Linked DNA regions of Homo sapiens. The protein of the gene in region 3 interacts with the protein of the main gene of each other region in a pairwise test. Each region holds a gene or a part of one and is shown on either strand. Other genes may lie near its edges.

Evidence for each region.
Region 1: the proteins of MGAT5B (region 3) and SLC25A48 interact in a two-hybrid assay, tested with the Homo sapiens proteins (one large-scale study listed by BioGRID).
Region 2: the proteins of MGAT5B (region 3) and PTH1R interact in a two-hybrid assay, tested with the Homo sapiens proteins (one large-scale study listed by BioGRID).
Region 4: the proteins of MGAT5B (region 3) and GLYCTK interact in a two-hybrid assay, tested with the Homo sapiens proteins (one large-scale study listed by BioGRID).
Region 5: the proteins of MGAT5B (region 3) and PLEKHG7 interact in a two-hybrid assay, tested with the Homo sapiens proteins (one large-scale study listed by BioGRID).
Region 6: the proteins of MGAT5B (region 3) and RSKR interact in a two-hybrid assay, tested with the Homo sapiens proteins (one large-scale study listed by BioGRID).
Region 7: the proteins of MGAT5B (region 3) and IVD interact in a two-hybrid assay, tested with the Homo sapiens proteins (one large-scale study listed by BioGRID).

The regions. Positions count from the first base shown.
Region 1 is NC_000005.10:135,869,066-135,873,196, reverse strand, and holds part of SLC25A48 (solute carrier family 25 member 48), read right to left. Parts: intron 1,737-4,131; coding exon 1,479-1,736; intron 1-1,478.
Region 2 is NC_000003.12:46,901,684-46,904,893, reverse strand, and holds the end of PTH1R (parathyroid hormone/parathyroid hormone-related peptide receptor precursor), read right to left. Parts: intron 3,129-3,210; coding exon 3,034-3,128; intron 2,369-3,033; coding exon 2,227-2,368; intron 2,146-2,226; coding exon 2,104-2,145; intron 1,625-2,103; coding exon 1,238-1,624; 3' UTR 1,095-1,237; downstream 1-1,094.
Region 3 is NC_000017.11:76,899,237-76,903,367, reverse strand, and holds part of MGAT5B (alpha-1,6-mannosylglycoprotein 6-beta-N-acetylglucosaminyltransferase B), read right to left. Parts: intron 814-4,131; coding exon 698-813; intron 66-697; coding exon 1-65. UniProt on the Homo sapiens protein: Glycosyltransferase that acts on alpha-linked mannose of N-glycans and O-mannosyl glycans.
Region 4 is NC_000003.12:52,286,330-52,290,954, reverse strand, and holds the start of GLYCTK (glycerate kinase), read right to left. Parts: upstream 3,128-4,625; 5' UTR 3,079-3,127; exon of another isoform or gene 652-3,078; 5' UTR 613-651; coding exon 236-612; intron 1-235.
Region 5 is NC_000012.12:92,709,011-92,713,141, forward strand, and holds part of PLEKHG7 (pleckstrin homology domain-containing family G member 7), read left to right. Parts: intron 1-4,131.
Region 6 is NC_000017.11:28,611,112-28,615,988, forward strand, and holds the start of RSKR (ribosomal protein S6 kinase-related protein), read right to left. Parts: upstream 3,075-4,877; 5' UTR 3,051-3,074; coding exon 2,976-3,050; intron 2,578-2,975; coding exon 2,329-2,577; intron 2,235-2,328; coding exon 2,151-2,234; intron 2,036-2,150; coding exon 1,967-2,035; intron 1,577-1,966; coding exon 1,507-1,576; intron 1,256-1,506; coding exon 1,151-1,255; intron 974-1,150; coding exon 933-973; intron 685-932; coding exon 657-684; intron 546-656; coding exon 456-545; intron 371-455; coding exon 282-370; intron 143-281; coding exon 32-142; intron 1-31. Other genes in the region: BLTP2 (bridge-like lipid transfer protein family member 2 isoform 1 precursor), read right to left, coding at 3,953-4,135, 4,553-4,687.
Region 7 is NC_000015.10:40,408,530-40,412,660, reverse strand, and holds part of IVD (isovaleryl-CoA dehydrogenase, mitochondrial isoform 1 precursor), read right to left. Parts: intron 2,034-4,131; coding exon 1,864-2,033; intron 1,402-1,863; coding exon 1,308-1,401; intron 1,107-1,307; coding exon 970-1,106; intron 1-969.

The DNA.
Region 1 (4,131 bases), on a different chromosome or scaffold from region 3:
CCTCAGCCTATCCTGGCCTCTGGTCCCCTCAGCCTCCTGCCCTTGGTCCTCCAGGAGCCTCTCTAAACCTGTGCCTTCTGCCAGGACAATGGGGCCACTTCCCCAGGTGCTGCCCTGGTGCACTCCCTTGCCCCTCAGCCCATGGGTGAGGGCATCACAAAACGGGATTTGCCTGCCAGGCCATTCACACCTGCTCTCTGCAAAAGTGAGAGCAAATGGGGCCTTGCCGTCCTCTCTGCCAGTCGGTACTGACTGAGCTCTTACTAGGAGCTGGGCATGAGCACAGGCACCTGGGGGCCAGAACGTGAAACTGTAGTTAGGTGGCTAAGACATGAGCTTCGTTATATGTCTGCTATGAGCTGACAGCATGGCAAACTGTGATGATGAGGAGGAGAAAGAGAGGGAGGAGGAGCAGGAGGAGGAGGATGATTCATGATTTTCTTCTTTCTGTTAGATCTTTCCCATCACATCAAACATGTCATGATGTCAGCCTTCTTAAAAAGTATCCTCTCTTGGCTTCCAAAGGCCCTTCTGGCTATGGCTCTGTTTCTCTGTTCCTCATTACAGCATAGCAGAACCCTCAGAAGAGTTGTGTATACTTGGGTGCACCAATATCCTTCATCCCATTCTTTCTTTATCCCACTTCATCAGGTTTTTACACCCTTCTCTCCATCAAATGGCCCTTGCCAAAATCCCCAGTGGTCTCCACGTTGTTAAATTCAGGAGGTGGTGAGTAGCAGGTACAAAGGCCCTGTGGTCAGGGAAGGGCCAGGCATGGTCAAGTTGCAGCAGAGACCAGTGTGACTGGAGAAAGTGAGGAAGGGGAGAGGAGTAGAAGTGAGGTGGGTGGGGAACAGGGAGCTAGATCACTGAGGGCCTGGAAAACCATTGCAAAGATATCAACTTTTACCTTAAATGAAAGAAGGATGTGGTGCAGGATTCTGAGCAGGGAGGTTAAGCAACAAGTCCATGGTCACAAAATGATGAAGTGTGGATTTGAACTTAAATCTTTCTGACTGCAGAGTCCTGCTATACTGTCAGCTCCAGCTGTATGACCTGGGATTGGCTACTTAACATTTCTGGACCTGAGTTTTCTCATCTGTGAAATGGGGAAACCGATTCCTACCTTGTAGAACTAATGGCATCCTTACATTACAAAGATTGCATTTAATAAACTGAACCATGATAATGGATTTCCTTTCCAAAGCTTAGTAATGCCTGACACAGAGTATGTGTTCAAAATATATCTGTTGCCTGAAAGTCAAATGGGAACTGCCATTCTCATAGCTGCATAGGGAAGGGATGAGACTGAGGTGGGAGAGGGCCGGGGACAGAGTAGGTACCTAACAAAGAATTGTTGGGTGAGTACCTAAATGTGTCCTGCCCTCCCCCTGGGCTGAGAAGGGCATGGCAGTTCCCCAGCTGTCCCACTGCTGTGGCCTGCACAGGGGTGCGGCTCCAGCTGCTGCTGCCCTTACCTGCCATGCCGCCCGCCAGCCACACGGCACAGGGGCTGGGGCCTGTGCAGGCCTCAGGTGTGATCCACTCACTCAGGAACACGTAGGGGATGAAGTAGAGGCAATAGCCTGGGACATCCCTCAGCAGCATGGCACTGGCCCCCCGGTATAGCCCCGCCAGGCCCTCATTCCTCACAATGGTTGTAATGCAGTGCACTGGCCCCTGGTATGCTGGCTGCTCCGCAGGAGCCACTGCCCTGGACTTCAAACCGAGGTTGGCTGCAAAGACAGGGGAGAGAAGGTGGCAAGTGACCCAGGGTGTAAGAGACTGGACATTCCGTGACACTGGAGCCAGCCCAGCCCTTTGACAGTTCCCTCTCATGTAGCCCATCAGCTTTTACCAAATCTGACCTTCTTGGCAGCTCAAACCAGGATACTGAGGTCCCAACAAGAGCCCCTGCCAATATACACAGCCAGACTGGGGACGATCTCAGCCACGTGATAGAACACCAGTTACTTTAGGTCAATACCACTACTTCTTTCGAAGCAAATGTGACTTCAGAATGTCTAGAATCAATTATGACAAGCCACACTAAGCTCTTCTTTGAAGCTAGAAAATCCAACATGCTGTGTGTGTGTGTGTGTGTGTGTGTGTGTGTGTGTGTGTGTGTGTGTGTGTCTGTGTACACATTTATTTATGCACAGTGTGGCGGAGCAAAATGTATATGAGATTTGGAGCCAGACTGTCCTGGCTGCAAATCCTAGCTCTACCGCTTATTGAAAATAATTTATAAATTATACATAAAATTTAAAATCTATAATTTAATATTTATAATTTTATAAAAATAAAATAAATAATTTTATTAAAATTATTTGGAAATAATTCGAAATTTACCTTGGCAAGGCAGCATTTTCAGCCCATTTCCTTATGTTAAAAGAGGGGGAGCTTGTCATGAGTGCAAATAAGGTAATACATGTACAGTGTTCAGCATGGTGATTTGAACATTGTAGGGGCTTAAAACGTTATCAACTGAGACCAAGGTTGCTGACATGAATTGGTGGCAGGACCCACAGGTTGGAGAGCTGGGTATATTCTCAGTGACTCACTCCAGCCCTGGCCAGGCTGTGCCCTAAACAGTTGTAGGGCAGCACTGGGGCTCTTGGCCCCTCAAAGTCCTGGGACCCAGGGCTGCTATCTTCTTGTCTAACCTCAGTAGTCTATGCTGGCAGCTCAGGGGTTGTTTGTCTCCAGCTTCTTCTAGGGGTGCACATAGCCAGCTGAGACTCTGCCTCTCTCTCATTTGCTACCCATCTCCCACTCTGATGCTTGTCTTCTCTGCTACGGACCCTTCTCTGCTATGGATCCTTCTCTACTATGAGGCTTTGACTCATGACCAGACAGAACTTCCAGACCCAGTGCAGATAAAGTAGGCTCTTGTTCTTGACTTTCCCTTCTCCAGGAAATAACATAATGTGACATGACCAGGAAAGAAATAGAATAAAGTGTGTCTGCGACCACAAGCCTATTTTGCCACCTGAGTTTAATTCTCTGTACAGTGTTCCAATCTGATTTTACACATGCTGGTAAACAGGCAGACAGCTTTCATCATATAGGTCAATGTCCAAGTCCCCCAAACAGTCCATCTTTATCAGAGGAAAGGTTAGAAGCATTCGGCTTCATGACTCCACAGTCTAGAGATTGGAGAATAAAGTGTAATCTGTACTTTAACTCATCCCAGAAGCAGGTGAGGTTGAGGGGGTGGTTTCTGCGTGCCTGGGAAGTATGCTTGAACAAACCCATGCTGTATTTTCCATCTTCCAGTGGGGAAGGGAGTAAACCCCTGCCATATCCATTAGGCCAACTTCAGTGTGGACAGGAGATGGAGCCAACTTCTTCCACAGTGGATCCCATAGGAGGTGAGCCGGGGTAGTAGCCACCTTTGGGGGCACAAGACCCCTCTGAGCAAGATCAGACATGATGGCCTTTGAAAGCCCACTGAGAGATCACTAGGCACCCCTTCCTCTTCCAGACCCATGGTGCTACTGCCTGGTTCATCTGGAGAAATTCTGCCGTTAGACAGAATAGATGTCATTGTCCCAATGTATAAATTTTGCCTGAACTGCTTTCATCTCCAGGCAAAACTGACTTGACCCAGGAGTCAAGGTTTTCATGAAGCAACTATGGGTAAATAGTGGCTTTCAGGAGTTACTGACTGAGGGAGAGGATCTTGATAACATTCTGCTTGTTTGAAAGTACAGATGGGAAAACACCCACCAAACCTCCAACTGGCCTTGTCAACAAAAATCCTGTACTGTTTTCCTTTTCCCTGCGGAGTAAGCAATAAGGAAATTCTCTCTCATTCTCCCAGGTTTGCCACATAACCAATCTAGCTTTTATTGCTTTGGAATTACCCATTTATGGCTGTTAGTGCAGTATAATTATCATGGTGACTCCCATCACCAGGATACTGACACAGCTCCAAACTGACCCAAGTTTATACTGTGAAGCTCTTGGAATTCTTTCTAGCTCCTTCATTCACAATATTTTTTTTTGAAAAAACTTTTTATTTGGAAATAATTCTAAATTTGCAAAAGAAGTATAAAAAGCAAAATAGTATAAAGAATGCCCATACATACAATTTACCCAGATTTATCTATTGCTAACAATAAGCAA
Region 2 (3,210 bases), on a different chromosome or scaffold from region 3:
CCTGTCCGTCATCTGGAAGGGCAGGCAGGGCTGGGTGTGGGGCTGCTCAGCAGGCACCCACACCTCCTAACGCCCACCTGAGTTTTTTGTCTTGGGCCTCCTGACCCCTCCCCTATGCCCTATGGGGTGTGTGTGGGCTGCTGGAGATGAGGTGCACTCCTGGATGCCGAGTCCGTGGAGAAGAGTAAGACGGGCTGAGCGGGAGATGGGAAGGCAGGGCAGGGCTCGTGCGGGGCTGTCTTTAGGCTGGAGCAAGAGCAAGAAGCTCGTTCAGGCCAGAGCCCGGGGTGGGCATGCTGTAGGGTCAGTCCTCAGGGTGTCGGGCTGAGGGGCTCTGTGCCACTCTGGGGCCCACGAATGGCCCAAGGTGGGAGAGGGCACGGTCCGGGGGGGTGAGTAAGGTGGTAGGTGGGTGTCAGGTGAGGACACTTAGTGACTGTCCCAGATGCATAGTGAATGGATGTGTCCCACCTTGCAGGCCCCTGCCCAGCCAGCCCTCTGGGCTCAGACTCCTGGCTCCCCACAAGTCCTGAGCCAGAGCAGGGACCCAGCCCACCCTTCACCTGCTGGCCTGGTGCTCCTACTGCAACCTCAGTCACAGAGGCATGTCAGGTCACGGGTGGATGCTAAGGCTCCTGCGTGGAGGGCTCCCTGAGTGGCCACTGGACAGCCAGGAAAGGTCCATTCTGTGGCAGGGCCGTAGGCTTGGGGGTGTGGCCAGGGACCCGAGGGATCTGCCAGCAGCCCTGGGTGGCAGTGATGGGGGCAGCAGTCAGAAGAGTTGGCCCAGAGGAGCCTGGGTCCCCCATGGGGTCTAGGTACAAGTGTGGAGAGCAGCTCCACAGCTGGCAGCAACGGAGGCTGAGGCTGGATTTCCACATGGGTCCACTTGGCTGCTGTGTGACCCCTGCAGACTTGAGCCACTCTGGGCCCTTTCTGCTGGATACCACAGGCCCCAGATCCCTCCCCATTCTGAAGTGAGACCTGAGGATTCCTCCATGACTCATGGCCCTCCCGCCACAGCTTTCCCTGGCTCCCAGCCCCACCCTCTCGGAGTGAGTCCCCAGTTTGGGCCACAGGAAGCCACACACCGCTTCCTTTTCCTTTTTCTTTTTTTTTTCTTTTTTTCCCTGTTTTTCCTCTTGGCCCCAGCCCTGAGTGGGAAATCATTCAACCACCCATCTTTTGGTCCATCTGTCCATCCACTATGTCAGCAGGTCCAGCCCCCAGCGCCTGGTCACATGACTGTCTCCCACTCTTCCTGTAGCAGGGCAGGTGGCCGCTCAGGCCCAGAGGCCTCCTCGTCCAGGCCTGAGCAGGAGCCGTTGAGGAACCCATCGTCCTTGGGAGCAGCCATGGCAGGTGGTGTGGTCTCGAGGGTCTCCAGGGCTGGGGTCCCTGGCTTGGCATGGCCAGGCAGCTGAGGGTGGCCGTTGGTGGTGGCAGTGGGCAGTAGGCGGGGGCTGAGGGGCAGGCCGAGTCCCACACGGGGGCCGACATTGGTCACACTTGTGTGGGACACCATGGGGCCGTAGCTATAGCTGCTGCTCCCGCTGCGTGCCTTTCGCTTGAAGTCCAGTGCCAGTGTCCAGCGGCTCCAAGATTTCTTGATCTCAGCTTGTACCTTGGGGCAGTAAGGGTGCGGCAGTCAGGTGTGTCTCCCAACCCCAGCGATGCCCCATCCCGGCCCCTGGACACCCAGCACGGAATGAAAATGGGAATAGGGGACTCCTGGGAAACTCCAAGGCCAAGTGAAATCCCATCCTCACAACAGGGTGTTTGGCTACAGGCAGCCGACACACCCAGAATCTACAAGGCTCAAATTGCCCCAAAGGTGGCTGAGTCCTCCAATCTGGGTCACAGATAATTGAACCATGGGGCTGGGAAGACACTTGGCTATGCCAGTGACTGAAGAGTCCCCACATCCTAGCACATCCTGAACCTGCATCATCTGGAAAGACTTCTCTGCTTTCAGAATGTCCTCAGGGGTGTTCTTGGAGGAACAAAGAAATAACAGGGTGGAAGAATGGAGAAATGAGCCTTGAGGAAGCCTCTGGGGTATCTGCCCCACCCTGCCCTATGCCAACACTGTCTCCTGCTTACCTCGCCATTGCAGAAACAGTATATGATTGCGACAAAAAATCCCTGTGAAGAGGGGTGTCTCGAATCAGGCCTGCCCCCGGAACCCCTCCCACCCTCAGCCAGGCCCGGGCCAGCACTGCGCACCTGGAAGGAGTTGAAGAGCATCTCATAGTGCATCTGGACTTGCCAGAGCGTCCCTGAGACCTCGGTGTATGGTGTGGCCATGAAGACAATGTAGTGGACGCCAAAGAGGGGCATGAGCACCAGCGTGGATTTGAGCAGCTTCCTGGGCCAGCGGGGCAGGTAGGTCAGGGCCAAGCCACTTCCCCTTCAACAAGCATTGTGCCACCCCCCACCCTGCGAGCCCCAGGCTCCGGAAGCTCAAAGGGGCCCAGGGCTCCAGTCACCATGGGAGGACAACCCAGTTCACCTGCATGGCTGCTGTCCTGGCTAAGTGCTAATAGGGCCCGTTGGTTCTCAGCGGTGTCCCGGAGCGGACTTCAAATGACAGTCCCCCTGTCCCTGGGCCCTTCGCACCTGTGGAGCCCTCAGCTGGCAAGCACTCCCCTCCACGGTCGAACCTCACTATCCCACAGTCCGCTCCTCAGGTTTCAGCTGAGCTGCAGCCTTCCCGGGGCCACTCACCGCCTACCTGTTCCTCAGACCCCCTGCAACCAACTCTTTGAGGAGAGGTTCAAGTTCGTTGCACACTCACAGACTCCAGCTCTAGTGCAGGGCCTGGTACAAGTGGGCAGGCTGGCTTTGGGGTGCCCTAGGGCCTCCCATCACTGCTGGGCAGGCCAGGTGGGTGAGGACAGCCAGGGAGTCAGACGCTGGGTCCTTTCCCTTGCCCCAGGATCATTCATGGGGCCACTGTCTTTCCTGGGGTACATGGTACCAGGACTCAGGGACCCCTGAGGAGCCAGGGCATGGCAGGCATGGTGGGCTCACCGGTACTGCTGCCGTGTGTCACACCGGCCGGCGTTGGTCTCCCGCAGCTTGGTGGCGAGCACCCGGACGATATTGATGAAGAGGATGAAGTTGAGCTGTGGGAGTGAGGGGGCTGCGTCTGGAGGCTGCACCCTAGTGGGGCGGGGCAAGGCCTGGCAGCCACGGCCATAGGCTCTG
Region 3 (4,131 bases):
CCCTGAGCAGTCAGGGAACTTGGGGTCACTGGGTGCCTCACACTGGTCCCGCCGGCCTTCTGACACTGTAGGGAGAGGTCACCTTGCTGAAGTCCCTGGTCCAAGGAGGAGCCCAGGGAGGGAGGCCTGCGTGCGGGAGGCAGCTTCCCACACAATCCGCTGCCAGGCTTTCCCACCTTAAAGCTCATCAGCCGCACAACCCACCCACAAGGTCAACCCGGGCCTAGGTTGCCCCCGGCCTCCTCAGGGGGTTCAGATGCAGTGAGGAGCTGGTGCGAACAGCCACTCAGCAGCTGCCTGGATGGGCAGACCTCATGCACCCACCCGAAAGCATCCCCAGCGTTTTCTGAGGAGGCAGAAATGAGGTTTGCAGCCCCCAGCTCGCTGCTCCCCACATCACAGGGACTGGAGGGGCCGCCGAGGGACCCTTCCCCAGGTGGCCTCACTCCTGGAACTGTGGACCCCAGAAGCTGAGACTCCAGGGACCTCCTCTGTCCTCAGCGCCCTCCTGCCGGGTCGAGGGAGTGAACCCCCAGTTGTCCTGCTGAAAGCCTAAACTGGGGCCCCGAAGAGCCAGCAGAGCTGCTGTCAGGAGAAGTCGGCCACACCCCAAGTGTCCCACCCTCCCAGGGCCCACCCAGCACCCAGTTCATTGGCCCCCTAGGGGTAGAGGGTACCCCCGCCCCCTGGCACCCACCCTTGCTGTGCAGGAGCAGACTGTGGCGCAGGATCTGGTCCACCTTCACAGCGATGTCGGAGACGTTCTGGGCAATAGCCTGGATCCGCTCCATGAGGCCGGCCCCAGGGGGCATCCTAAGTGGGAAAAGCCAGAGGTGAGCCACAGAACCGGCCGGGGTGACCTTCCCATGAGGGTCCTGCCAGTAAGGCCCACAGGCAAAGGCGGCAGGCTCTGCAATGCCCCAGGCTCCCAAACCCTGACCCCAAGCAGACCAAATGGTGGGGAGTGAATCGGGTGAGAAGATGGAGCTGGCAGCCCACCCCATCCAGTACACACATTACAGACATACGGGAAAGCCCATATCTGCACATGTTGGTCACAACTGCATGTTGTGCCCACAACTGCATGTGTGATCATATCTGCAGAGAGCCCTTTAGTGGACATCCCCCACCCCTCGGCCCCAGGCCTCATGTCCACCTTCCCTGAGCAGTCAGAGAACATGTCTTCATGTGGCCACAACTGCACGTGTGCCCACAACTGTACAGGTGCCCACATCTGCACATGTCCCCACATATGCACACGTGCCCACAACTGCATGTGCGCCCACAACTGCACACATACCCATAACTGCACATGTAATCATATTTGCATGTGTGGCCACAACTGTACATGTGCCCACATCTGCATGTGTGCCCACAATGGCACGTGTGCCCATATCTGCACATGTGACCCTATCTGCACGTGTCAGGCATGTCCGTGCATTACTGCATGTGTGCTGAAGGGCAGTGCATGGGGCTGAAACAGGCAGAGGAATTCCATTCAAGAGCCTGGCTAGGTTCTGTCCAGGGGTCACACAGGTGACAGAGGCCTTTTCCTAGGCACAGCCGGGCCTCTCCGAGTCTGTCTCTATTTCCTCCCAAGAGGCCATATTGTGCCAAAATAAATTCTACCCGCAGAAGCCTGGGAACTTGCCAGGTATTAAAACTCCGGTAAATTATCACTGGCTTCCTGAGAACAAATCCTTCCCAGGATCTTAAAGGAGGTGACTGCCACCACCACAGCCCTCCACCTCACCATCGATACCAGTGTTGCTTTTATTTTTGGAGGATTTATTTCCTGTGTTGATTACTACTCAGCTCTCAGGGACATTTATTAGCCGTCATATGCAGTATTTATCTCATTGCAAACTTCTATTGAGATGGATTCCCCTCAGCTGGCAGATCTTCTCACACAAAGATAGCCCTGGGGGTCTTTCTCCAGGAAGCTGCTTGCCTTTTTTTTTTTTTAACACATTAATTCGGTTTCCTTTGATTCTCACCTCACCCCGTGGCTTTGCAGGCCCAGTTTAAGCTCCGTTTATCCCTATACAAGGTACTGGTCTTTATGGCTGCACATAATGGGAATTCGATGAAGGATTTTTCCAACCTGGGCTCCGTTCGGGTCTGCAAACCCCACCTCTCCTCCTCTTCTGAGCCTAGTGAGCTGTCCACTAGAGAAGGCATAGCAGGAACCCTCAATGGCCACCCGCCCTCTACAGCCATCACACTCTCCCACCTCCACCTTTCCTAAGGAAAGAAAGGGCAGTGGCCCCATACACATCGGGGGACTAGTCAGGGTGACAGGTGGGAGCAAAGCAGACACCGAAGTGGAGGGGACAAAAGGCAGATGACAGGAATGGGGAACAAGCCCCCCATGTACACACATGCACACACACATGCACACAGGCGTGCACACGCACACACTCACACACAAACACGCACGCACACATGTACACACGCACACACACACATGCACACACATGCACACACACGCACACATGCACACACAATCCAGTCTGTCCTCTCACTCTAGTTCAGTGCCCAAGGCAAACTTTGACAAAAACAAACAAACATAAAACTCTTAAAATAAAAAATGCCACCATTTTTGTGTTAGTTTCCTGGGGTGACTGCAATAATTTCCACAAACCAGGTGGCTTAAAACCACACCCATTTCTCCTCTGGCAGCTCTGGAGGCTGGAAATCAGACAGCGAGGTGGCAGCAGGGCCGGCGCCTTTAGACTCTAGGGGAGCCTCCCCCAGGCCTCCCTCCCAGCTTCCAGAGGTAGCAGCAGCCCTCAGTGTTCCTCAGCCCGTGGCTGCTCCACCCCGACCTCTGCCTCCGCCTTCACACGGCCTTCTCCCCTGTGTGTGTCTGTGTCCACTTTCCTCTCTTTATAAGAACACCAGCCATGGAACCAGGGCCCATCCAAATCCAGTAGCACCTCCTCTTAATTTGATTACATCTGCAAAGAGCTTATATCCAAATGAGGTCATAGTCACAGGTCCTGGGGCTAGGACTTGGACATGGCTTTTTGGAGCACAAAGTTGAATGCACGACAGCCTTCTGTGAGATTACAAAGAAAGAGAAGAGACGTAAAAGCTACCTGCTTCATTTGCTCAAAAAGTCCTCAGGAAGAAGGAAGTAGGAGTATTTTTCATCTATCCAAAACTCATCAAGGTTCATTACCAGTATGATACAAGGAGATGAGAGGAAGCTCAGACCCCTATGAGCTATGTGACCCTGGGCAGGTCACCGAGCCTCTCTGTGCTCACCAGTCTCATCTTTTAAGACATAAGGGCAGCTACCATGGTGAGGACTGAATGAAGAGAGCTGTAAAGTGCGTGGCCAGCGGCACCTGTGTGACATCAGCACTGTTTGCATTCGTGATCAGCACTGATATTGATGTGGTTGAAGCAGCAGCCACAGGGACTTGGGTTAGACCAGGGCACATCAACCTTTTCTCATTATTGCCCGTCTAGGAGGTTTCTTACAGCTAAGATTGTTTCAAGAACCAGTGTTCTCCCTTTTGGCAGTGATGTGCTCCCACCGAGAATGCCTGGGTTCCCTCCAAGAAGAAACATGCCGATTTGATGTCTGCCAGGCTCTGACATCAGTCCAGATGAAGCCCGTGGAGCTGCTTTCCATGCTGACCTACAGGGGCAAGATGGACACTCCTTTGACAGGAATGAATATTTTTTTATATACACAGAGAGAGAGAGGGAGAGAGAGAAGGGCTCTCACTCTGCCACCCTGGACAGAGGCTGGAGTGCAGTGGCGCAATCATGGCTCACTGCAGTCTCAACCTCCCGGGCTCAAGCCATCATCCCACTTCAGTTTCCCAAGTAGCTGGGACAATAGGCATGAGCCACCACGTCCGGCTAATTTTTTTTTAATTTTCTGTAGAAAATATATTGCCCAGGCTGGTCTCCAACTCCTGGGCTCAAGTGATCCTCCCGCCTCAGTCTCTGAAAGTGCTGGGATTACAGGTGTGAGCCACCATACCCAGCCTGGAATGAATATTTCAAGGACAGAGTGCAGAGGCAGGGAAACCTCCACTGCTGCAGGCTCAGAGCTGGAGACGAGCCGGGCTCTAAGGCTCCCATCATGACAGGAGGCACGCAAAATGGAGAAAA
Region 4 (4,625 bases), on a different chromosome or scaffold from region 3:
GAGGGAAAGGTCAGCACGCAAGAGATGGGGTGGACTCCTCTCCTCCCACCTGATCTCTCAACTTTACAGGTGATGGGGGCATGAACGAAGATGCCCACTGACATGCATCCTGGGGCCAGGCCAGATCCAGGAGAAATGGGAAGCGGGTGGGGAGGGGAGGCCCGATTCAGCCTGTGTCTGGGCCCAGGTTTCCCTCCAGATAGATAGAGGGAGGCAGGCCCCCATGGCTCCTTACTGCTTGCCGGCACGCTCCATGGCAGCACGGATCCCCTTGGGAACGCTGATCACGCCCTGCACAAGATGCTGGCCCAGTAGTTCCTCAGCTGCAGCTGCCATACCCAGCACAGCCTTGCCAAAGCCCACCAGGTAGAGGTTTTGCCTCAGCTGAAAGTTCCGGTCCCGCACCTTCAGCTGTCTGCCACCAGGGTCCAAGGATAGTGCCCGGTGCAGCATGGGGCCCGGCAGCACTGCACCTACAGCACTCTCAAACAGCTGCCTGGCCTGCTCTGCCAAGGCCATGCTGCTGGCCAGACGGGCCACTGAGCCCCGCCAGAGGAGTGGATGCAAGGGGGCTCGGGCCAAGCGGGGCAGGACCTGCAGGGCTGCAGCCATGCCCCACTGCTCTCAGCACTGCCTGGCACCCATGGCTGCCTAGAGGGAAAAAGCACAACTGAGGCCCTTGCAAGGCAAAAGACAGGAGGTCCCCCACGGCCGCCCCTCTGAGGGCTCAGGGCCAGTGGACCCCACAGCTGCTGCTACAAGAAGGAGCCATCTGATAGCCCCAGGAGACTTCCTGAAGCCTGCAGCTGCAGGATCTTACTCGTCCTTGGAGACCAGCCCTGCCACCCAGCCACGTCCTCCTCTTCTGCAGACCACATGCCGGCCCTCTGGATACTCTGCCTCAAGTCCAAAGTTCCTATTAGCTGGGCCCTCCTCCCAGGTCACCCCTTTGGCTGGGAGTTAATCATTGACAGAGGGAGTAATTTCTACCAGTGGGCTCCCATCCCACCCCTTTTCCACCCCCTGCACTTCTGCGCTGTTACCCTGGGGCAACGCCCCTTTCTGGCACTCCTTCCTTGCCTCTTTACCACCTCTGCTGCCAGGAAGCTGTTGATTGTCCCACCAACTGACCCTGAGCCCATTGACCTCCAGTCTTCTCTATTTCATTATCTCATGAGACTGGGATTAGGAGCCTGGGAAGTCAGGGTCTATAGGAGGCTGCAGGTTTATCAGGTCAAACCCAGAACACATCCTCAGGGCAAGCAATCTGAGGAATCTCAGTATGCAGGACCAGTTCAGCAAGAGGTTTAGGTTCAAATCAGGAGTGAGGGCAAAGTCTGGCTCATGGTGGAACCTTAGAAAAGTCCCCAGGCACCATGTGAGGCCATGTGCCATGAAGCCCAATTGCAGGACAGAAAAGGATGCCCTTCTACCCACACAGTTGGCCAGACCCAACCCTGCCAAGAACACGCCTTCTGGTTCCAAGATAACAAAAACAAGTCCTAGGTCACACCACCCACAGTGGTGAGAGCCCAAGGGCTGAAGTAGGCAAAGGCCAGGCTCCCATAACTGAGCCCATAGCCATTTTCCCCACTGGGCAGAGTAAAAGCTAAAGAAGCCTTGGGGCGAAGGTCAGGAAGCTGTAGAGGGGTATAGGAACAACAAAGACCCAAACAGCTCATCTGTACTACATATGTACTATTGCATCTACTTTAATAAATGCCTACCATAAATGTTGCAAGCTGACTTCATCAGCAAGTATGGACTGAGCAGGGTAAGGAGGCTGGGAATTGAGGTTCCAGCTCTACTATAGGCTTTCTGAGTGGCTGGGACACCTCCATTTCTCTCACTGGGCCTCATCCGCAAAATGAGACATGGGGTGAGATTAACACTACGCTCTTCCCTTAACAACCTCAGGCTCTCTGATACTGTCCACTGCAACACAGATCTCAAACACCGGTTTACCCCACACCCAAATATGGTGGTTACTTCTAGACTTTGACCATTTTGCTTGCCTAGTTCTCAGCTCTCCGGTAAGAAAAGACAGCCATGCCTGACTTCTGTTGTGAAAGGGAACACAGAGGGCATCGTCATGGGGATTCCGAAAATGGGTCCAGTTTTGGCCAGGGGGACCCCTGGAGCTTGCCCATTGGACTTGGAGCTAAAAGCATCTTAGCAACTAAGACAGCCGGTCTTTATAGCCTGGATGAAATTTGTATCTATTTCCCAGATGGACAAGAGCCTAGAAGATCCCAGCCTTGCCACTGGGTATGAGCACAGGACAGGGGGACGCTCAATGCTAAGGCTGCCAGAGAAAATACAGGACTTCCGGTTAAATTTGAATTTCAAATAAACAAGTAATTTTTAAAGTATAAGTATGTGCATACAATGTTTAGGACTTAACAATTATTCGTCGTTTATCTTAACTCAAATTTAACTGGACGTGGCCCGGCGCAGTGGCTCACGCCTGTAATCCCAGCACTTTGGAAGGCTGAGGCGGGCGCATCACCTGAGGTCAGGAGTTCGAGACCAGCCTGACCAACGTGGTGAAACCCCGTCTCTTCTAAAAATACAAAAATTAGCCGGGTGTGGTGGGCGCCCGTAATCCCAGCTACTCGGGAGACTGAGGCATGAGAATCATTTGAACAGGGGAGGCGGAGGTTGCAGTGAGCCGAGATCGCGCCACTGCACTCCAGCCTGGGTGACAGAGTGAGATTCTAACTCAAAAAAAATGTAACTGGACGCTTTGCATTTTTATTTGCTAAGTCCTCCAATTCTATCCAAGACACGGTCTCTCCGAAACTCCGGGAGGCTCCAGAGCAAAACAACGGAAATAGGAAGACTACCGGTCTTGACTCCTCCCCGCCATCAAAGAAGGCTGGTACCATTTCCGGCTTTCCCTAGACAGTAGGGGGCCGGAAGTGACGTCATCCTAAGGTAGGGCCTTAGCGAGGGAAATGGCTGCCGCGTAATGCCCGGTGATGCGAGAAAGAAGGGCCTGCTGCCACCAGGACCCGTCATCGCCCAGCCCAGGGACCGCTTCTGAAGGCCATGCGAGCCCTGGCGGCGCAGACTTACCAGCCCACAGCTCCGGCCGCGGTGCCCAGCGCTGGAGAACGGAAGTACTAGGGGGTGGGCGGAGCGGAAGCCGGAAGTGTGGGTGGGTGGAGCGGCGCAGGCGGGTGCGAGCTCTGGCTGAAGCCGGTGTCCGGGAGGGGAGAGTTTAGCATATTGGCTCTTTGCTGGCCACTGACAGACCTGGAAGGAGTCACCTTCAGTCCTCATTTTTTAAATCTCTACATTGAGGGTAATAATCCCCGCCTCACCGATTGCCGATTTTTTTTTTGAGACGGGGTCTCATTCTGTCGCCCAGACTGGAGTGCAGAGTCGCGGTTTCGGCCCAATGCAACCTCCGCCTCCCGGATTCAAGCGATTCTCATGCCTCAGCCTCCCGAGTAGCTGGGATTACAGGCATGTGCCACCACTCCGGGCTAATTTTTGTATTTTTTAGTAGAGACGGGCTTTCGCCATGTTGCCCAGGCTGGTCTCGAACGCCTAACCTCAAGCGATCCACCCACCTCAGCCTCCGAAAGTGATGGGATTACAGACTTCAGCCGCCGCACCCGGCCTCTCCCTTCCTTTATCCTGTACGGTCAGTCAGCAGATGCACCCTGAGTGTCAGGCACTGACTGGGCTGAGCAAACGAACTGAGAATCACTACTTCCCCACAACTCACCCCTTCTGGAGCCAGATTAAGTAATTCCCGCTCCTCTCCATGGCTTTTATTCCACAACTTATTATTGTTCTTCCCTCTCCCACCATGGGCCACCAAATACAGCTCTGGCTTAGCAAGAGTTCCATTCTGCGATCCTCAAGCACATAAGCGGCATGTAAACGCTAATGACTCTGGGCCTACCTCGCTGTCCCTACTCTCATCCGGGGCCTACCCTGTGTTGGCTGGATGCCTTCCCACATTCATAAGATGAGTCCTGATCAGACTCCAAAAATACAAAACAGTTCACTGTTTTTACTGATGTTTTCTTAGGGAGATAGAGGAGAGAGTTGCATCACAAATCACACACTTGATTTCCTAACAATTTTATTGAAACATGTTTCTTGGCAGGGCGCAGTGTTTCACGCCTGTAATCCCAACATTGGGGAGGCCAAGGTGGGCGGATCGCTTGAGCCTAGGAATGCGAGACCAGCCTGGGAACATGGCGAAACTTATCTCTACCAAAAAAAAAAGAGCCAGGTGTGGTGGCATGCTCCTGTAGTCCCAGCTACTCAGGAGGCTGAGATGGGAGGATCACCTGAGCCTGGGAGGTAGAGGCTGCAGTGAACCTTGATCACGCCACTGCACTCCAACCTGGGCCCCTGTCTCAAAAAAAAACCAACAAACAAAAACACATTTCTTTCTCTTGGTTTTGAGGTGGAGTCTTGCTCTGTCACCCAGGCTGGACTGCAATGGCACAGTCTCAGCTCACGGCCACTGCACTGCAGCCTGGGCACGATGTCGGCTCACTGCAACCTCCGCCTCCCAGGTTCAAGCAATTCTCCTGCCTCAGCCTCCCGAATAGCTGGGACTACAGGCGCCCGCCACCACGTCCAGCTAATTTTTGTATTTT
Region 5 (4,131 bases), on a different chromosome or scaffold from region 3:
AAAAAAATTATGTTTAGAGTCGAATTATTTTAATAAGATTTTGAGAAATTTTATTCCTTACCCTAAGAGCAGTGTGAAACCATTTGATGAATTGATATGATCAGATGGATGTCAGATATACCTGGGATTTAGATGCAAGTAGACTTGAGTCAAATAATTCGAATGTTCAGGTATGAGAAGTTGTTAAGTTAGATTATGATGAAGGCAGTGGGGTTAAAAAGAAGTATCTCAATGCAAGAGATATTTAGGAGATACAATCCCCCAGACTTTGTGAATGGTAGCCTATCAGGGTGAGGGAAAGGAATCTTCAAGAATGACCTCCAAGCTTCTGGCTTGTTCAACTGGGTAACCAAGGTGTCCATTCACTGACCTAGATAAACTTGGGTAAAGAAATTAAATATGAGTGGTTAGAGTGTAGGTCTTGTGTTCAGGTTTGGACATGTTGAGTTTGAGGAACTATGAAACATCTAAGTGGAGATTTTGAGTAAATAATTGGTTAGAGAAGGCACCAGGGGTGGATGTACTATATGTATATTTGTGAGTCTTAAATCAAGGAATGTTTCCTAGAGCAGGTAAAGTCTGGGTCCAGCTCTGATTATTAGATGGAGCCGGCAGACATAAAGGCAGATCAATGGGATGCATGAAGCCATTTGCAAAAAAATGATGTGAAGGTAATTTCCATTGCCATATGAAATCTGTGAGGAAATAACAAAAATAGTCTTGGTAAATTTTAAAAGAACAGCTAGGTCAGGCTGGGCACAATGGCTCATGCCTATAATCCCAGCACTGTGGAAGGGCCAGGCAGGCGGATCACTTGAGGTCAGGAGTTTGAGATCAGCCTGGCCAACATAGTGAAACCTCATCTCTACTAAAAATATTTTTTCTTTAAATAAGCTGGGTGTGGTGGTGGGCACCTATAACTCCCTTCTTAGCCTGTTGACTTAAAGGTAGGAGGAGCCCAAAGTGTCCAGGTGGCAATTTTAACTTCAGTTTAATGGAAACTTTCTTGCGTCTCCTGGTGGCAGTGTTCCTCCCTCTGGAACTAAGACCTCTAGGCCAGCAGAACGTAATGTCACAGGAACAGGAGGCAAAAATTTGGCTAGTGGATCACTAGGGGTGATGATGAGTAGTGCCACTTTGACTTCCACCCCTTGATTCCTGAACCTGTGAATCCTGGCTATGGGAGAAACAGTACCATATATTGGATGCTGATTCAGAGCATTACATGGCCATCCAGAAAACTTTGTCCCAGCCCTGCAAAGTATTGTCACCTAGTTGGCACTACGATTGTGACTTCAAAAGGCCATTCCACCATTCTGTCAATCTAGCTGCTTCAGGATAATGGGGAACATGGTAAGACCAGTGAATTCCATGAGCATGAACCCACTGTCGCACTGCTTTGTCCATAAAGTGAGTGCCTTGGTCAGAGGCAATGCTGTGTGGAATACCATGATGGTGGATAAGGCATTCCATGAGCCCACAGATGGTAGTTTTGCCAGAAGCACTGCATACAGGATAGGCAAACCCATATTCGGAGTAAGTATCTATCCCAGTGAGGACAAACCTCTGCCCTTTTCATGATGGAAGAAGTTCAGTATAATCAACCTGCCACCAGGTAGCTGTCTGATCACCCCAAGGAATGGTGCCATATCGAGGGCTCAGTGTTGATCTATGCTGCTGGCAAACTGGGCACTCAGAAGTGGCTGTAGCCAGGTCAGCCTTGGTGAGTGGAAGTCCACTTTACTGAGCTTATGAGTAACCTCCATCCCTACCACCATGGCTACTTTGTTCATGGGCCCATCGGGCAATGACAGGGGCAGCTGGGGAAAGAGGCTGAGTGGTGTCCACAGAACGGGTCATCCTATCCACTTGATTATTAAAATCCTCCTCTGCTGAGGTCACCCATTCATGAGCACCTACGTGGGGTACAAATATCTTCACAGTTTTTGACCACTCAGAGAGGTCTATCCACATACCCCTTCCCCAAATTTCTTTGTCACCAATTTTCCAATCATACTTCTTCCAAGCCCCTGACCATCCAGCCAATCCATTGGCTGCAGCCCATAAATCAGTATATAATCGCACATCTGGCCATTTCTCCCTCCATGCAAAGTACACAACCAGGTGTACTCCTCGAAGTTCTGCCCACTGGGAAGATTTCCTTTCACCGTTATCCTTCAGGGATGTCCCAGAAAAGGCTTGTAGTGCTACAGCTGTCCACTTTTGGGTGGTGCCTGCATATTGTGCAGAATAATCTGTGAATCAGACCCTAGTCTTCTCTTCCTCTGTCAGTTGGTCATAGGGAACTCCCCATGAGGCCATTGGTGCAGACTGGGGGAGAGAAGGCAGGGTGGCAGGAGTGGAGACCATGAGCATTTGAGCCACTTCCTCATATAACCTACTTGTGCCTTCAGGACCCGCTTGAGCCCAATCACATATATACCACTTCCATTTGATGATGAAATGCTGCTATGCATGACCCACTTTATGGCTAGATGGGTCAGAAAGCACCCAGTTCATGATAGGCAGTTCAGGTCGCATGGTGACTTGATGACCCATAGTCAAATGTTCAGTTTCCACCAAAGCCCAGTAACAGGCCAAGAGCTGTCTCTCAAAAGGAGAGTAGTTATCTGCAGAAGATGGCAGGGTCTTGCTCCAAAATCCTAGAGGTCTCTGCTGTGATTCACCTATAGGGGACTGCCAAAGGCTCCAAACAGCATCTCTGTCTGCCACTGACACCTTAAGCACCATTGGATCTGCTGGGTCATATGGCCCAAGTGGCAGAGCAGCTTGCACAGCAGCCTGGACCTGTTGCAGAGCCTTCTGTTCTGGACCCCACTCAAAACTGGCCACCTTTCAGGTCACTCGATAAATGGGCCAGAGTAACACACCCAAATGAGGAATGTGTTGCCTCCAAAATCCAAATAGGCCTACTAGGCATTGTACCTCTTTCTTGGTTTGAGGAGGGGCCAAATGTAGCAACTTATCTTTCACTTTAGAAGGAATATCTTGAAAGGTCCCACACCACTGGACCCCTAGAAATTTTACTGAGGTGGAAGTTTTCTGAATTTTAATCAAATTTATGTCCCATCCTCTGGCATGCAAATGTGTCACCAATAAGTCCAATGTATTTGCTACTTCTTGCTCACTGGATCCAATCAGCATAATGTCATCAGTGTAATGGACCAGTGTGATATCTTGCGGAGGCGAAAAGCGATCAAGGTCTCTCCGAATAAGATTATGACACAAAGCTAGAGAGTTGATATACCCCTGAGGCAGGACAGTAATGGTATATTGCTGGCCTTGCTAGCTGAAGGCAAATTGCTTCTGGTGGGCCTTATGGACAAGAATGGAGAAAAAGGCATTCGCCAAGTCACTGGCTGCATACCGGTACCAGGAGATGTGTTCATTGGCTCAAGCAATGAAACCACATCTGGTACAGCAGCTGCAATTGGAGTCACCACTTGGTTAAGCTTACAATAATTCACTGTCATTCTCCAAGATCCATTTGTCTTCTGCACAGGCCAAATGGGAGAGTTGAACAGGGATGTGGTGGGAATCACCACCCCTGCGTCTTTCGAGTCCTTGATGGTAGCATTAATTTCCACAATCCCTCCAGGGATGCGATTTTTTTTTATTTACTATTTTTCTAGCTAGAGGTAGCTCTAAATGGCTTCCATTTTGCCTTTCCCTCCGTAATAGCCCTCACCCTACCAGTCAGGAAGCCAATGTGGGGGTTCTGCCAGCTGCTAAGTATGTCTATGCCAATTATATACTCTGGTCCTGGAAAAATGACCACAAGATGAGTCTGGGGACCCACTGGACTCACTGTAAGTCAGACCTGAGCTAAAACTCCATTAATTACCTGACCTCCATAAGCCCCTACTTTAACTGGAGGACCACAATGATGTTTTGGGTTCCCTGGAATCAACCTCAGCTCAAAGCCAGTGTCCAGTAGTCCCCAAAATGTCTGATCATTTCCCTTTCCCCAGTACACAGTTACCTTGGTAAAAGGCCAGAGGTCTCCATAGGGAAGGATGGGAAAAAGATTCACGGCATAGTGAATTGAGATCGCACCACTGCACTCCAGCCTGGACGGCAGAGCAAGGCTGCATATCAAAAAAAGATTCA
Region 6 (4,877 bases), about 48 Mb from region 3:
AGCCAAGAAGGAAAGCAGTGCTCATCCTTACCTCATGGAGCAGGAGTGAGAGGCCCTGGTTAAGAGAAGCTGGGATCTCAGAGTCACTGTGGGTCACACTTGCCAACATGGCCACATGATCTCTCTCTGCAGCCACTGGAAACTGAGTTAAGAGGTAGGGAGTGGAGGTAGGGGTAGGGGTTCATTCCTTAGTAGGAATACGGCAAGATTTCCTAAGGTCTTCCTTCTTCCCACCACAAGGCAAAGCTCTTCTCTGCCCAAAACTACTACTATTCTCTCACCTTTCCAGTCGCCAGAGAGAAAAGCAAGACACCCAGGGACCACCAATCAGCAGCATGGTTGTAAGGTCCTCCACTTAGGACCTCTGGGGCTACAGATTTCAAAGATACTCATCACAGACATCCTTTAGCTATCCTCCTGCCCAATGCTTACCCATCAGCTTTAACCTCTCTCACCCATGTACTGAAGAGTGCCACAGATAGTGTAGGCTTGAGCTCCCTGGGGCACGTGGCGGGACAGACCAAAGTCTGTCAGTTTCAGATGGCCTATGAAAGAAGGTAAGGCAACTGCACCACTGTTCCACCCATCATCAGCCATGATTTATTCCCAAACCAAAGTACCTCTCATCCTGGGGCTAAGGAAGGAAAAAGACTTACCTCGTTCATCTAGAAGAATATTCTCCATCTGAAAGATCACAGGTGAGAAGTAATTCTTCCTCTTCCTTTCAACTCTCTTTCATCATGTATACACCCCAGCTGAAGGTGATGCCCTACTCAGCACTCAAATCTATACTCAGAGAGCCCTTCCCCAAATCCTTGGCACCCATGGGGGCCCCAATGTCTACAGTTCTCAGCTCCCTAACTTCTTGGACTTGTTGGCACTTCTTATTGAGACTCTTTCTCAGACAAAGGGAAAAAAGCACTTAACTCTACCTTCACATCTCGATGCATGATGCCCAAGTCATGGAGATAACCTGTGGATAACAAGTATGGGGTATGCTGCAGCTTTTCTGTCCTTTCCAGTTTCCCTAGTAGCCCTCATCCCATCCCTATCCTATTCTTTAACTTCCATTATTAATATTAATTTTTTACTCTCCTTCTTCCGAACTTAAATCTTCCCTCCCCATTTCCTTTACCACTGTTTCACTTACACAGTACCAGCACCAACTCGGCAGCAAAGAGACGGATGGAAGCCTCAGGAAAGCAGCCAACAGCCGACCAAAGGGAGTACAGATCTGTGCTGCAGTAGCTACACACTGCAAAGCCAGTGTGGAGCTACATACATTGCCAGAAGTCTAGGCAATGTTTGGGAGCTGCAATGCCTGGGCTCAAGGCATTGTAGGCCTCCTGCCCAAACTGATACCACCTGCTGTTCCCCTCCCTTTGGGACAGAGAGGTGCCATGAGAAGGGGGACAGAGCAAAGGCAGAACAAGCCAAAGAGGTAATCTCAGGTGGGGAACATGGTACAAAGACCCTGGGGGATGAGGAGAGAGTCCAGTCACTCACTAATGAAAAGGTGCCGTTTTCCCTGCCAGCTGTCCCCCAAGCTGTGTACAAAGGGATGGTTGATCTGTCGCTAGGAACAAAGAAAACAGGAAGTTAGGGAGGAACAGGGTCATTGAGAATAAAGGCAGCTGAGAAATCAGGTTTTACCCAGATGTGCAGAGGGGGAACTGCTGCCTCACCTCTCAGTTCAGAGGAACTCAATATTTGGAACTGACTATCTGGTAATCCTAGAACCAGCAAATACTAAGGAATACACTGGGACATGCTTCAGAGATTTCCCTAGTAGGACATGGGAAAACTGTGTTGAGAGCTGATACTTTTCCCAGGATCTACTTTAGTGTTAAACTAGGCTGAAGCAGATGGATGAGGCAGAACCAGGAAAAGAAGGTGGGCAAGAAAGGTACTTTCCCTACCTGTGGCCTAGCTCTTCCCACAATCCTTTCCAGGACTCTGTGCATACCTGGATGCTAACCTCCTCTTTGCACTGCCTCACGGTATCCCTCTGTAGGACCTTTACCTTGGGCACCACCTATAAAAGGAGAGTAGTGATGACTCATAGATAGTGCTATTGAATTGTTTATTCCTCCCAACCTCTCTGGAATCAAGATTGGAAACAGAGACTAATGTGGTATCTACGCCCCTACCTTCACTGCAAATACAGCTTTCTGGGTGCAATCTAGCACCTTGAGGACAGTTCCAAAGGAGCCTTTAGCCACGAGGCCTAAAATCTGTACAGAGGAATGGAGAACAGGCCAGTTGAGACTGGTCATTTTTAACTTCTCCCAAAGACTGAGACCCCACTCAGGGATTCCACTGACTTACCTTCAGCTGCTGCTGCCCCCTAATGGGCCTAATGGGAAACTCTGGTAGAAAGAGGTTGATGAACTGAGGCACTGGCCACTCTGGCAGAGGCTTCTCTACCAGTACTGGGGCTGGCTTTAGGGATTCCTGGTGCAGATAGTGGTGCCCCCGTAGTTCCCAGAGTTCTTCCAGATCTGACCTGATGGTTCCCAAACCTGTCCAGAGGCTCTTCCAGCCTCGGGCCCAGGGACCCCGGATGTTGCCACCCTGCTGAGAACCAAGGGAGCCACTCTAAACTTTCTGCTCCTGAGGCATAGCAGGTTCCACCCATCTTACTAGGCACTCCCTCCCCTTAAGTCTCAACCCCTAGAGGTACATTTTTGAGCATGAGGCAAAATTCCCATTACCCTTGCTTTGTGCTAAGCCCCAGATTTCCTGGGCACAATTCAAATCCTCTAGGAAAATAATTGTTGGACATTTTCACCATGACGCATTAAGAGTACAGCCTGCACCTCAGTATTGGGCTGTGATGCTTTCATAGTACAGCCTCCCTGCCCCACCCCCACATTGGGTAATCACTTCCATGCTCCTAACCAGGAACTTCCCAGGACTCAAGCCCATGTCTCCCTCTCCTCCCCTCAGTAGGCTGCCAGAGCCCCACAGCCTACCTTGTGAGGGACAGCCACCCGGGTGTGTTCCCCCTGCTGGGTGTGCTGCCCCTGCCGACAGCTTACTGCTCCCATTCCCAGCCTCTGCCTCCTCTCTCTGCTAAATCTGCTGTCCCAGTTATATAAGCAATTCCTCTCCCTGATGCTGCGTGACACGAGCCCCGCCTCTTCCAGTCTGCAGAAACCCATCAGCATGGGGCCAGAGTCACACTAGGACTAGAAATTTCTGTGATACAGCTTCAGGGCAGAGGAAGGAAGGGGCCACCCTCAGAGTGGCAGCTGCAGGATGTTCTGGGTTGATGAGGGAGGAATACACAGATTGAATGCATGCACTCAACACACACACACAAAAATGAGCATCAAATTTAAAATATCTTTTTTTTTCTCTTTAAATCATTTTGCCATTCTCCAGGGTATATCCTACGGGGAAGGGTAGGGGACCCATGGCCAGCCCTGGCTCCTACTGCCATCCTCCCAAGTGAACTTAGCACAGAGACTGGGGAGGGGTTGACCCCCACTCCAGAACACCAATACCTCTTTCAAACATGACAGTGGAGTGAGGATCAGAGGATCAGCCCCCTCCCGTTTCCTGGCACAGAGGAAGGACAGTTACACTTAGAAATATATATATAATATATATATATTTATATATGTCTATAAAAATTTATCACACTTGATCAGGACTATCCCCCTACCCTTTCACTTGACCCCAAGGGAATAGGGTCCTGCCCTGGGCCCATTCCCTGGGTCTTGCTCTCTTGTTGCCTCTCTGGCCCTGAGCCTGATCAGTGTGAGACAGAACTCAGCATTACTGTCCACCATGCCCTGCAGCGAACAGACCAGGTGCTGAAGAGTGATGCCTATGGGCTCTGACACCCACAAATCCTCGTGGATAACGGGAAGCCCCTCCCACCCCACAAGTCCCTGGAGCCTGAGCCAGAGTCAGATCCTGTACTGCAGCCACTCGAATCGCCAAATCATTTGCGCCTGCCAAAGATGGACTTCTTGCCAGGGTTCTTGTCGCCCACACTTAAACCAATGAGGAGCCGGGCTTTCTCCTCCTCTTCCTGCTGTTGCATGTTCAGGTCCGATTTAGTTTCTAGCTTTCCCCGGACCTCAGAGCCTGTTGCAGACTTCAGCCTTAGCTTCTCTTTGATTACCTGGCAGATTGGAGAGGAGTAAAAGAAAATGTAAATATTAGTGGGCAGGCAGAATAAATCAAAATGAACCAAGACAATAAAGATTTATTAAACACATCCAAGGCACAATGGGGCAATTCACATACAATGGTCTCTGCTTTCAAGAAGCTTACAGTCTAATTATAACCCCTTCTAAACTTTAGGTTGTGTTAGCTCTCAGTTCCCTAAAATCAATGGTGCTATACGAAACACTCAGTAAACACTGAATTTAATAATCTGAGTGAGGTCATGGAGAGGGTAGGCATAGAAGCCACTCACTTCATGCACCTGCCCCTTCCCAAGGATATTTATTCATGGATTCTAAAATGAAAGGCTCCTGAAAAGAGGATCTGCCTGCCAGCCCCATTAGCCAAACAGCCATGAGCCCTGGCGGGATACCTGGGCAACCAGGGCTTTGCGGCTGTCCCTTTTGACAGCCATGGCAAAGTCTAGCCATGTCCATGTGTTGTTGTGGTACTCCAGACAGGGCAGCACCAGGTTAAGGTCACCCCAGTCCACACTGTTCTTCTCACCCTGTAAGAGGAGGGGGAGGGGAAAGAAAAAAAGAGGGGTGGGGAATACATCAGCTGCCATTTTGAGTCCCAGCCAGCCACTTGAGTGCCAAGTCCTACAATAGTAACCTACAGATACTGATTTCCCCTTACCTCAGCCTCGTAATGATGCTGACTCTTGAGGGGAGCAGAGGGAACAGCAGATTTATCAC
Region 7 (4,131 bases), on a different chromosome or scaffold from region 3:
GCCCGGTCAATTCCCTTATCCTCTGTTGTTCTCCTGTCTGTACCCAAAGGGATCCCACTAGGGCTGAACTGAGCCCTCTGTACTTTGACCTGGACTACTGGGTTGCAGCATGTTTTGGCAAGTGACCAGCAAAGTGCTGGCACATGCTGCCTTCAGCCTGTAATGAGGGTGGCATCACGCAACCTTGAGATTTCCAATCTCAGCCAGGTCCCTACTGCTCCAACCCTAGACAGCTACTTTCCCCCTCTCTATGGAGGGTACCGCAAACCTTTACAATACTCGCTCATGAAACTCTTGCCAACTCCCCCACTCGTGGCCCCAGCCTTCACAGGGCCCCTGGCTTCCTCCTCATGATCGTTAGGCAAGTGGTTCCTGCACCATCACCTGTAACCCATCCTTCTCTCTTCTGCCCCAGCTCACCATTGTGTTCTGCCCACTCATTCCCACACTTTTCAATTTCTCCCTCTATTTTCTTTTTTCTTCCCTTTTTTTTCCTTCTGACCAAAAAATCTGCTCAGTTCTCTCATTTCTAAAAACAAACCCAAACTCCTAACTTTTCATTGGAACTCCTGCTCTGCTTCCTTCTTGCTTCTGTTGTCAAGGCTGTTGCAGGGGCAGTCTCCACTTGCATCCCACCCACACCTCAGTCTCCCATGGCCACATTCATCAGATCCACCAATGGTACCCTGACCGTCATGTCCTGACCTCCTTTTAGTCCTCCCCTTTCTAGACCTCTTTGTGTGGCCTGGCGCTGAGGACGGCTCCACCGTCTTCAGAAGTGACCCATCTGCCCTGGACTTCCTGGACTTTTGGTCACCCTCCTTGCAGTCTGCTCTCTGCCTCACCCCCACCTCTGGGGGCCTTGCAGAGCACACAACACTGATTCCATTTGAGATCAGTGAACGGGCTATCTCTGGTACCACTGTCAGGAGGCAGAAGCCTCCTGGCCCTGCACCCACCTATACTCACCTTCTCCACAATGAAGGCTGTGATGCCCCGAGAAGCTGGCACAGCAGCCAGATCTGTCTTGGCATAGACAATCAGGACGTCAGCATCAGGGCCATTAGTGATCCAGAACTTGTTGCCATTCAGGATGTAGTGATTTCCTAAGGGCAGGATGTTGGCTATTTGCTCAAGCCATCTTGGCCTGTCTCAGCCAGGCCATAGACCTTCTGCTGAGCAAGAAGCTGTCCACCTTTGAGAAAGTTCTGGAAACCCAGCAGGGGCCACCCACAATTGTTGCTCCATTATCCTGATAATGTCTGTACCTCTGCCCATTTTGGCTCCCAAGTTGAGAGTGGCCTCACCTTTCTTTTCCGCTTTGAGCTTCATAGAGACAACATCAGAGCCTGCATTGGGCTCACTCATGGCCAGGGCTCCGATGTACTCACCACTGATCAGCTGCAAGGAAAACCCCCAACAGGCCTTGTTACAACCTCAGAGTACCCTAGAGCAGCTCACTGGTACTGCCTCTTCCTGTCCACATTAAACCCCTTCAAACTTCGCTCTCAGACCAGGGTGTCGGTAAAGTCCTAGAAGTCTCTTCTAAGCCCAATGGCTACAAGGCTGAAAATGCCTCTCCTTTTTCCATTCCCTTTGCAAAGGAAGCTAGTCCTACTCTTCCATTTCTTAGAGTTCTCTTCAAATGTTGTCTGTCTGTTGTTCAATGCAAGAGTTCTGGTCCTATTTTTATTATTTTTGGCTCAAGTATTTTAAAGCAATCCATGGCCCCTTCCTAACCACATTTGGTTCATGGCAGCATGCTACAGAAAGCAGGTCTGACTGGCCCCCAAGGGGAGAGGGTATCTTTTAGTTGGTGGTTGCACTGTGAGATTAGCGTGTATTACATTTCCATTTCCTCACCTTCGGGAGATACTTCTCTTTCTGGGCCTCATTCCCATTGCGTACAAGCTGGTTGATGCAGAGGTTGGAGTGGGCACCGTAACTGAGCCCCACTGCTCCGGAAGCTCGGGATATCTCCTCCATCACCAGCACATGCTCCAGGTAGCCCAGGCCGGAGCCGCCATACTGAACTGTGAGTGGTGTGGTACAAGGGAGTGGAAAACGCAGCCCAGATTAAATCGGGACATTCATTAAGAATCTTACATTTGACGGCAGAAGGGAAGCACCTTGTAGCACCTACTCCAAATTCTCTCTAGCAACAAGAATAAGCTGATGCCACAGACCTGCTTACAAGCTCAGTGGACTGGTTTTGCCTGCTGGTGCTCCTCAGCTGAGGGGTGATTCAGAAGGCAATCATTGCAACTTCTGCTTTATCCCAGACAGACTTCTTGATGAAGATACGTGAACAACCTGAGCACCCACTACTCAGAAAGTTACAGAAATGCAGAGGCAGATGAATAAATGAAGAAAGAGGGCCTGGAGAAAAACAAAGGCATTGGGGTGGAGGTGGTGTCCAAAGCACCAAGAACAGATACAAAGCCAGAGGATCTGATGTGTCTGCAAAAGGCCTGAGGAAGGTGAGATTTTATAGCATAGGGCTGAACCCAAAGAAGCAGGACTGGAGGCCAGGCATGGGGCTCACGCCTGTAATCCCAGCACTTTGGGAGGCTGAGGTGGGCAGATCACGAGGTCAGGAGATCAAGACCATCCTGGCTAACACGGTGAAACCCCGTCTCTACTAAAAATACAAAAAATTAGCCGGGCATGGTGGCGGGCGCCTGTAGTCCCAGCTACTCGGGAGGCTGAAGCAGGAGAATGGTGTGAACCTGGCAGGTGGAGCTTGCAGAGAGCCGAGATCGCGCCACTGCACTCCAGCCTGGGCGACAGAGTGAGATTCTGTCTCAAAAAAAAAAAAAAAAAAAGAAAGAAGCAGGACTGGTGACAGGACAGGAGAGCCACAGCCTCAGGGAAAATCTTGAGGTGAGCTGTACAGCAGAGGGCAGATGAGATGCTGGCAGAGAATTTCAGAACTCCTCATAAAATATACGGTTTTTCCTTGGCAGCAGATCCAAACTCCAAGTGGCTGAGACACCTGATACCACCCCCAGCCCTGCTGATTGGGTCAAGCCTAGCAAGGTCCTATACACATGTTCACTCTGACCAATAAGTCAGGCTCGTTCTAGGCTCTAAGGAAACCTTGACCTGCCCCTACAACTGCAGGAAGGAAAGCCTGAAGGCAGGTGACATTAGAAACAGCCACCATGACATCATGCAGAAACCAGAACTTGTAACCAGCTTTCTTTTTCAGGTTCCCTTGAAAGAGTTTTCATCTGATTTCTTTTCTTTTTTTTTTTCAAGAGGCGGGCTCTCACTCTCTTATCCAGGCTGGGGTGCAATGGTGTAACCATGGCTCATTGCAGCCTTGAACTCCTGGGCTCAAGCGATCCTCCTGCCTTGGCCTCCCGAGTCACTCGGATTATAGGAGCCCACTACCACACCTGGCCATTTTCATCTGATTTCTAACTGCCTCTTTCTTCCGTAAAATACAATCTGATTCAGAAGCATATTGTCTGCAGGGAGTGGGGTACATAAACCCCCAAAACACAGTAGGAGAGTCTTGCTTAGGAGTACCCAGCAGCCTTTCCCCTAATGCTTTTACATTAAGATGGTTTCAATTAATCTTCAAGTGGTTTCATTTTATGAAAGGTGATATAACTTTCTAGGATGTAAGGAGAAGTATATTGGGTTCCACTCATACTCTCATGCCCAGAGTGAATACAGGCCCAAGCAGGCTGGGCTTTTTTTTTTGAAACGGAGTTTCGCTCCGTTGCCCAGGCTGGAGTGCAGTGGCACAATCTCAGCTCACTGCAACCTCCGCCTCCCAGGTTCAAGCAATTCTCCTGCCTCAGCCTCCCGAGTAGCTGGGATTACAGGGATGTACCACCATGACCAGCTAATTTTGTATTTTTAGTAGAGACAGAGTTTCTCCATGTTGGTCAGGCTGGTCTCGAACTCACGACCGCAGGTGATCCACCTGCCTCGGCCTCCCAAAGTGCTGGGATTACAGGTGTGAGCAACCACGCCTGGCCTAGGCTCATCTCTTTACCGGGCACTGCAAGCCAGTCTGGGCCTCTTTCAGACGTTAATATCATCCAAACCAGAGCCTGCTAGCTCCCTGCCTTCTCCCTCCGGACAGCCTATTAAACACATCATCTGGCCACCTCACCT